Linked DNA regions of Homo sapiens: regions 1 and 2 are each linked to region 3. Evidence: fine-mapped expression QTL. A gene starts in region 3. Each other region holds a variant in brackets. All regions are shown on one strand. Distances are between the middles of the regions.

Region 1 (2,843 bases), 91 kb before region 3:
ACGGCTCTTTTGGGCTTCCAACACAGTATTTTAAGTGGTTACAAATGTCTGTTTATGAACAGCTTGCTTCCTAAGATAACGTCCGGGGCCAAAACTCAGAAGGAGTAAGAGGCAACTGCCTCAAAGGTACTCAGGCTGCGGGTAAACATTTGACGGAATAAATGCTCTTTATTCACAGCCTGTGTTGAAATCTCCCTGAGGATGACTCACCATGCCTTTTCCCAACATCAGGCCCAGGAAGCCACGGACTTTCCCATGTCATCACTGACTTGCAAGCCTGGGGCAAAACCACAGTCCACCCAGCACAGAACTTGGTTCTGCGACCAGAACCAAAGATGAACTTGTACCCTAGGAAGATGTGGTCTTCTAAGCCTGACAAAGGACGTCAATTTTCCCCATTCCTCTCTCTTAATTCATAATAGAAGGGTTTGGTTAATTACACCTGGGATAATGAATAACTAAAAATGTGTTCTTCGCTACGTAAACAGAACACATTCTCTATTCATTTACAGTTAACATTTCAACTTCCTCTTAGTCTCACCTCCCAGGACAAGATCAATGGACCTACATTCATCTAACCACATTGTCGATTTTCCAGGCTTCTTATTTTCTCCATCTTTTTTCTAGTTGAAGATTCCTCATTGTTTTAGACTTTCTTCATCACAGCTCTCACATGGCAGTCCAGATTTGGGTTATTTTTAATCTTTTTGGAGTTATTTCAAGTTGTTTGTCTAGTTTAAATCCAGGCAGACTTCAAGATTTTTCCCTTTGTTCCTGTACAACACTGGTGAAAGGAGGGTGCTCCACGGAAGCTGGATTTGAATGCTAGAAAAGGAACAAGGTATTCTAACAGTGTTCTTGCCACAACTTTCACCGTCAGACCTTAAAATCTGAGTGCTGTAGGGAAATTAAAACCATCTATTGTCCTCATATTATAACTAGAGGAATAGAAGCCCAGACAAAATCAAACAACTTGCTCCAGCTCCCATGAAGAAAACCCTGTCTCTTCTACTTCTTCCTATTCTATTTAGCTACTTCACCCAATTCATCTATTAACATTTTCTCAGCCAGGTGTGGTTGCTCACACCTGTAATCCCAGCACTTTTGGAGGCTGAGGCGGGTGAATCACTTCAGGTCAGGAGTTCAGACCAGCCTGGCCATCATGATGAAACCCTGTCTCTACTAAAAAATATAAAGATTAGCCAGGTGTGGTGGTGAGTGCCTGTAATCCCAGCTACTCAGGAGGGAGAGGAGGTGGGCGGATAGCTTCAACCCAGGAGGCAGAGGTTACAGTGAGCCGATATTGTGCTACTGCACTCCAGCCTAATTGACAAACCAAGACTGTCCCGGGAGAGAAAGAGAGAAAAGACACAAAGAAAGACAAGAAAGAAACACAAGAAACAAGAAAGAAAGAAGAAAGAAAGAAAGAAAGAAAGAAAGAAAGAAAGAAAGAAAGAAAGAAAGAGAGAGAGAGAGAGAGAGAGAGAAAGAAAGAAAGAAAGAAAGAAAGAAAGAAAGAAAGAAAGAAAGAAAGA[A/AAG]AGAGAGAGAGGAAGTGAGGAAGGGAGGAAGGGAGGAAGGGAGAGACAGAGAGAGAGAGAAAAAGAAAGAAAGAAAGAAAGAAAGAAAGAAAGAAAGAAAGAAAGAAAGAAAGAAAGAAAGAAAGAAAGAAAGAAAGGAAGGAAGGAAGGAAGGAAGGAAGAAAGAAAGAAAGAAAGAAAGAAAGAAAGAAAGAAAGAAAGAAAGAAAGAAAGAAAGGGAAAGAAATCTCATCACAATATCAAAAGACATAATTTCAGCCAGGTGCACAGGCTCATGCCTGTAATCCCAGCAAGTTGTGAGGCAGAAGTGGGTGGATCGCTTGAGCTCTGGAGTTTGAGACCAGCCTGCCAAACATGGCGAAACCCCATCTCTACCAAAAAAAAAAAAAAAAAAATACAAAAATTAGCTGGGTGTTGTGGCACATGCCCCTCATTCCAGCTACTCAGGAGGCTGAGGTTAGGGGGACTGCTTGAGCCCAGGAGGTTGAGGCTGAAGTGAGCTGAGATCACACCACTGCACTCCAGCCTGAGCAATAGAGCAAGACCCTGTCTCAAAAAACAAAAATCAAGACATTATTTCTATTCTACCTTAGTGCTTAAAGAGTGAAGTGATTTAATTATGACTTCTCACAACGGTAAGAGAACAATGAACTGCAATGAGAGAGTCAGTCGTGTTCCACCCCCTTTGAACCAAGGCTGATGAATTATGAACAAGTCAAGGCCCTTAATGCAACATGACCACAAAACGGCAGTAAGGAGAAGGTACTTGAAACCCTAAGACTAACGTCTCTTCCTCAGATCAGGAGAGCTTTCAAAGAGCTGCAAAGGTCATTTGCTGCTTCGTGATCAAAAATGTAAAAATCATAGGCCATAAATCACTAACTTAAGCCACAGAAAATGTAATGTAAGATTATACCATCCACATATTTTCATTATAAGGGTATTACATACTGGTAAGAATTCAAAAATCTGATAAAGCATATAAAAAAGTATTAAACTCAATGAACGATCATGGAATTTCCTCCAACTAAATATTTTAAGAAGAAATAGAATTAAAGCGCAGATCACAACTGTGAAAATGAGCATAGTGAAGTTGAACTGAAGGAAACCTAACCATTCAAATATTAGAAGAAGCTAGAAAGTAAGAATATAAAAACTTGACCAGCATATATTACATCCTTTAACTTTTCCAGAGAGAGAAATACAACTGGCTCCCAAATATGAAACATGGTCATCTACACAATGAAAAATAGTTTTCATAGATTTTTCCTATATTTTGTTCAAAAATGCAAAAAAGGAATGGTAAAA
Region 2 (2,843 bases), 67 kb before region 3:
ATATGAAAGCTCTCTCAGCCCACTGTATCCTTCTCCCTCTTTCCTGTCTCAGCTAAGCACTCTGAGAGCATCGTCTACACCTGCTGCTTCCAGATCATCATCTCCCAGTTGTTCCCAGCAGCCCAGCAGTCTGACTTCCATCCCTACCATCCCAACAGAACTGCCCTCGCCAACCTCCTCCACATGCACCATGGTCCGAAGATAATGAACACTGCTCAGGACTCGCCTAACTGGGACAAAATTGATTCCTATCTGGACGTGCAGCCATGCATGTCCACGTAATTATGGATAACAGTGCAGTGTCACCTTAGCAACAAGTGATCAGTCTTTCATTTAGAAGCCACAGTTTGGCTAGGGTAAATGTTAATGAGAGGCTTCTAATGGAGTATGGCAGTTTTAAAACATACCAAAATCTTTGATTCTCCTCTTAATCCATCTCCTATTGCCCCGTCCTCTGCAATCTGGGCCAAGGAGTACAGCACAGCAGTAGCGATGCCATGTGCCTTCCAAGACGATGTCATAAAAGACTGTATTATAGTTCTCCACCTGGTTCTCCTGGAACAATCACTCTTATAACCCAGCTACCATGGTATGACAAGGTCCAGGCAGCCCATGGCGTGTTCTACATGAAGAGGGCCATTTGGAGAGGAACCAGGACCCCGGCCCTGGACCCCAACTGAGCTCTGGTCAACAGCCTTTTGAGCAGCCATCTTGAAAGAGGATTCTCCAGCCCCCTGAACGGTCCCAGCTGACACTGCATGGAACCCAAACCTTCCATGCCTAGCCATGCCCAAGTTGCCTATTTCCGAACTCAATAACTGTTGTTTTGAGCCACTGTTTTGAAGAGGTTTGCTACACAGCAATAAATAACTGATACACACGACTATAAAAGATTCTGGCTTCTGCTTAAAAATTCTATGAGAAAGATGCTGAGAATTTTCTATGTATTAAACTATTAAGATTTATAGGAGGCCATTGATTTAGACTGAGCTCCTGCTCTAGGCTTCAACAGATCCAACCAAAATAGAGTCACTCATGCTAAAGTTCCACATCACCAAACCAAAACTAAGCTATTTATCTGACCTGAGAAATCAAGAGAG[A/T]GAGATGCTAGTTAAATCCCCAAACAGCAAGTTTTAGCATAAAGAAGTCCCCTGTGCTTGAACCCTTACAAGGAAAGTGACGTAGAGTAACCTGATATTAACAATCTGCTTTTTTGCGCTATGCTGTTTTCTTGTTCCTGCTCAAGCCACCTTTTAAAAACCAACCGCCAATGCCTGATCCAGAGTCCCTTTTCTGCATCTTTAGATGAAATGATGCCCAGTTCATGAATCACTAATCATTAAAGCCAATTTGAGTTTCAAACTAAATGTGTTGAATTTTAACAGGACTCAACAAATAAAACACTATATTGTAGAGACAACTGCAGGTATAAATTTACTACAATCTGGATAAAACTTTTTTGGAAAAGGTTCAAAGCAGTTATATTCTAATACATTTCCTAATATTGAGTGGACAATTAATACATGAATACTTTTCAAATCAATTGCTAAAGTAACAGAAGATATAATTTTACCTCTTTTCCTTCCAGAAGGCAACATTAACTGCATTTATAGCCAAGTAATGCTATTTTAAAATCTTCGTTATCCAGATTAATTCTCCATACTATTATAAATTCATCAGTATTTCTAATATCATCCTGCTCCCAGGACTTAGATATCTCTACTTTGGGCCTTAACATTCTGTTTCTGCTAAGAAAAAAAAATGACAAAAGCTACCACAAGTGTGATATATAGAACTATTAAATAGTCAAAGAGCTCATCTTTCTCCTAACTCAGAGTTTGACTACAGCTTACCAAAAATGACAAAATAGAAAACATATATAAAACAGATTTTTTTCCTCTATAACCAAAGCCCACTTGTAATAAACTACATGAGAGGTTCAAATTTGCTTGATCATAATAGAGCTGTTTAAAAATACATGGCTGGAATTCACATTTGCAGTTTGCAGATGGAGCAATAACGATACTCTGAATTAATAATATGTGATTGAAACTCCGCATGGAAGGAGGGGGTGTGTTATCCCACCCTTTCTATCCTGCAAGCCTAGGTCTTCCTAAGGACTACTTTGCTCAACGGGTAATTTGGGAAATTAGAGTTTGTTGTTCAGATGTCTGAGATCAGGGATAAGCAAAAGATTTCACGACTCTGTGAAGGTCACTGGCAATGACCACAGCAACCATTAATAAAGATTGCCTTATTAAAAATCTCCATGGCACTGGGCACTGTGGCTCATGTCTGTAATGCCAGCACTTAGGAAGGCCAAGAGAGGAAGATTGCTTGAATCCAGGAGTTCAAGGCTGCAGTGAGTGGCAATTGCACCACTGCACTCAAGCTTGGACAACAGAGTGAGACCTAGTCTCAAAGAAAAGAAGAAAAACACAAATAAAACTCTCTGCGGCTTATCATAAAATGAAATGTCAGCCAAGGCAAGAGGCCACGCCCGAAGGAGAAAACAGATAGGTCTGAGTGTGGGGGTAATGCTCCAGGCAGCAGGTGGTGAGCAAAGGGGTCAAGCTGGGTTCCTGGGAAGTTCCCCATAAATTTCAGCCAACGATGCACAGGCCTCCTCCCAAACACCGCTGAGCAGGGCTTCTAGATCTCACTGTTTTTGACAACACAGCCAACCTCAGCTACCAGGGTCATTTGGACCAAAAGGGAAAATACCACTAATCAAACAGGGCCCAATTTCTTAAAACAAACAAAACAAAACAAAAACAAACACCAATTGCCTTCTCATTAGAAAAGAACTTAAGAAAATCACTAGGCCTGTTAGACCAAACAAC
Region 3 (2,500 bases):
TTTCTCCCTCCAATTAGCAACATTTCAGCACTGCACAGGGCTTATTAATGCTCACTGTTGCAAGTAACACCAAGGTAATTTGACTTTCTTGTAGGAACAATGTCGACGAAATCCTACAGAATTAAATTTAAATTTCCAGTTTAAAAAAAAAAACCGTGAAAGAACACTTCATTACCTTTATTATCTAGACGTATCTAATGACGTTAAGTAAAAACTGCACCAAGGCTTTGAAACCAGAAGAAAAGTGGAGTTTGTGAAATTTAACCACTCCATGCTTTTTATTAGTATTTCACTTATGAGTATTTCCCGAGGCTCACTGTTTTGGCAGGCACAGTGCTGTTAACATCTCTTCCTTTCTCACCATTCTTTGCTCATCGATGAAAAGATAACTTCAAAATCTCTGACAGGAATGCAGGTGCAGGAAGTGCGACGGAAACAAACAACTTTGCCTCCGCTTCCTACAGCTTTCCTCTCCTCCCCGCCCTTCTAGCCCCCATCCCACCCCAAGATCATGCCCTCGAACAGCTTCTGCCCACCGATCGCACGTCCCCTGGGCATGTTCGGGCAGCGGTGACCCTCAGCCACATCCCCCACTAGCCCGGTCCCGGGCAGGCGAGCGCGCTGCCCACCGGCCACCCTCGTCACGCCCCCTCCACCCTCTCCATCCCAGCCACAATAATACAATAACCGCAGTCATCGCGCGGCACGTGGAAAGGCTACTTTTCAGTGGGTTTTGCAGAAAGCAATCAGACAGCGGAAGGCCACGAGAAACGCTGGTGAAGCCAAACCGACCCCGGGAGCGCAGCGGCCCCGGACCCTCCCTGGAAGCTCCCTCCGCGTCCCCGCGCGCCCACCTGGAGGCGCCGCGCCCTCCGCCTGCCAAGCCGGTCCCCGGCCCCTGCCCGTGCCCTGGGCCCCCGGCGGGCAGCGGCGGAGGGAGGCCAGGCGCGGCACCGTCCTCCGCAGCTGCACGAGCCACCCCGAGGTCGCGGGGTGGGCGGGCGCGAGCTAGGCGCGCGGGGCTGTGGGGATCTGCCGGCGCCACTGACGCCCCCGCGCGGCACACCGCGCCCGGCTGGCCCGGGAGGGGACCCGACTCACCCGAAGCGCCCTGCTAGCTGCCCGGCCCGGCTCCGGCCGCTGCCGCCGTCGCTGAACTTTCCCTCCTGCGCGGCCGCCGCGGACTCGGCTCCACCTCCCGCTCCGGCAGCCGCGGAGCCTCCAGGGACCCCGGGGGCGGGGAGCAGCGGCGGCGGCGGCGGCTCGGGCGGGCGGGCGCAACAGCGGCCAAGCCTGGCGCCCCGCCGCAGGGTAGGTCCGGCGGGGGCGGCCAAGGCCGGGCTGGGGTCGCGGTTGGCCGCGTACCTCCGCGTCACCCACGGCCTCTCTGCAGTGCGTCCCTGCGCCCGTCGGAGCGGCGCCCTGGCCGAAGCCTGTCACTCTCGGAAGGGGCCGCGCTCGGACACCAGGGGCGGTTTACGCGTGACTGGACACCAAGAGCCGGAGAAGTTTAGAGACTAGGACACTGTGGCGTGGCCCGAGTTGCAGGAGAGAGGTGTCCAATCTCCATGGGGTCCTTACTCTTGCAGGACAGAGTTCCCCATCCCCCTGCTCCACCCGCTCTGTTCCCTTGGCTGCCCTCCCCGCCGAGCGCCGACTTCCATGCAAAAACTTTGTAAATCGCACTTCGGGGAATTCACGCTTTAGTCGCGGTCTCTGCTGCCCTGGTCAGCTATAACGCCTCCCCTAGAGAGCTTTTACTTACAGCGAAGGTCAGGAACCCCTGTAACTCTCACACCGCACCACTGTGGGTAAGCGATGTCTGCAGGGACCCCTGACGGCCACTGGGAGGCCAGGAGAGAAGAGGGAGAGGAAAGGCTAAAAAGGCAAGTGGAGTGTTGGGTAATAAAAGATCCACCGCCACCTCCAGCACACACAGGCAGGCACCCTCCAGGGCCACAGGTCGCCTTTTATCTGTAAGTGCTCCAGCGCATCTCTGTGGGAGAGGGAGTTGGGAAATAGGATCGCCAATTTTCAGTGTAATTGAGGGGGACTCAGGAGGAGTCAGTTAGACTGGAAGAGGTCATCACCTGCAGATGCGGTTAAGCAACTTGCAGAGGCCCCAGGGCTGAGCCACCGCAGAACCGGAGCTGGAAACCAGTCCTATGACTCCTGAGGCAGTGCTCTTTCTACTACCTGGCCATGGCTCCTTCTACTGCCTGGCTCAGAGTCTCCATCTGGGAGATTCCGGCGCACCAGACTTTATTGTGGGCACAGGGTAGGCAGTCCTGAGGCTATAGGCACAGTCTTGAAGCAGCTCGGTTTCCATTAAGCTCCTGCTTACCTGCAGGAAGCATCCCTGAAGCAAGTTTTGCTTCCCACCTGGACTCCCCAGGTGGACCTATCCCCACCCCACACCCTGAGTGAACTCTTCACCCTCGTGACCTAATATACCCACTGCAATTCAATTGAGACTTGGGAAACAGGGAAGTGGGTGTTT

What was found. PIP is the estimated chance that this variant, and not a neighbour inherited with it, causes the effect.
Region 1: its variant is fine-mapped to the expression of CSGALNACT1 in whole blood (INTERVAL, PIP 0.98).
Region 2: its variant is fine-mapped to the expression of CSGALNACT1 in whole blood (INTERVAL, PIP 0.93).

What each region holds. Positions count from the first base shown.
Region 1 is chr8:19,665,348-19,668,190 of GRCh38, forward strand. All of the region lies in intron 1 of CSGALNACT1 (chondroitin sulfate N-acetylgalactosaminyltransferase 1), which reads right to left. Among named protein-coding and RNA genes, the nearest start is that of CSGALNACT1-AS1, 12 kb to the right of the region's middle. RefSeq lists an enhancer at 1-409. The variant A/AAG (reference allele first, on the strand shown) is at 1,536.
Region 2 is chr8:19,688,672-19,691,514 of GRCh38, forward strand. All of the region lies in intron 1 of CSGALNACT1 (chondroitin sulfate N-acetylgalactosaminyltransferase 1), which reads right to left. It overlaps CSGALNACT1-AS1 (CSGALNACT1 antisense RNA 1), which reads left to right. Exons shown (of 2, transcript XR_007060841.1): 2 at 53-891. Among named protein-coding and RNA genes, the nearest start is that of CSGALNACT1-AS1, 12 kb to the left of the region's middle. The variant A/T (reference allele first, on the strand shown) is at 1,101.
Region 3 is chr8:19,756,085-19,758,584 of GRCh38, forward strand. It overlaps CSGALNACT1 (chondroitin sulfate N-acetylgalactosaminyltransferase 1), which reads right to left and starts at 1,193. Exons shown (of 9, transcript NM_001354483.2): 1 at 1,102-1,193.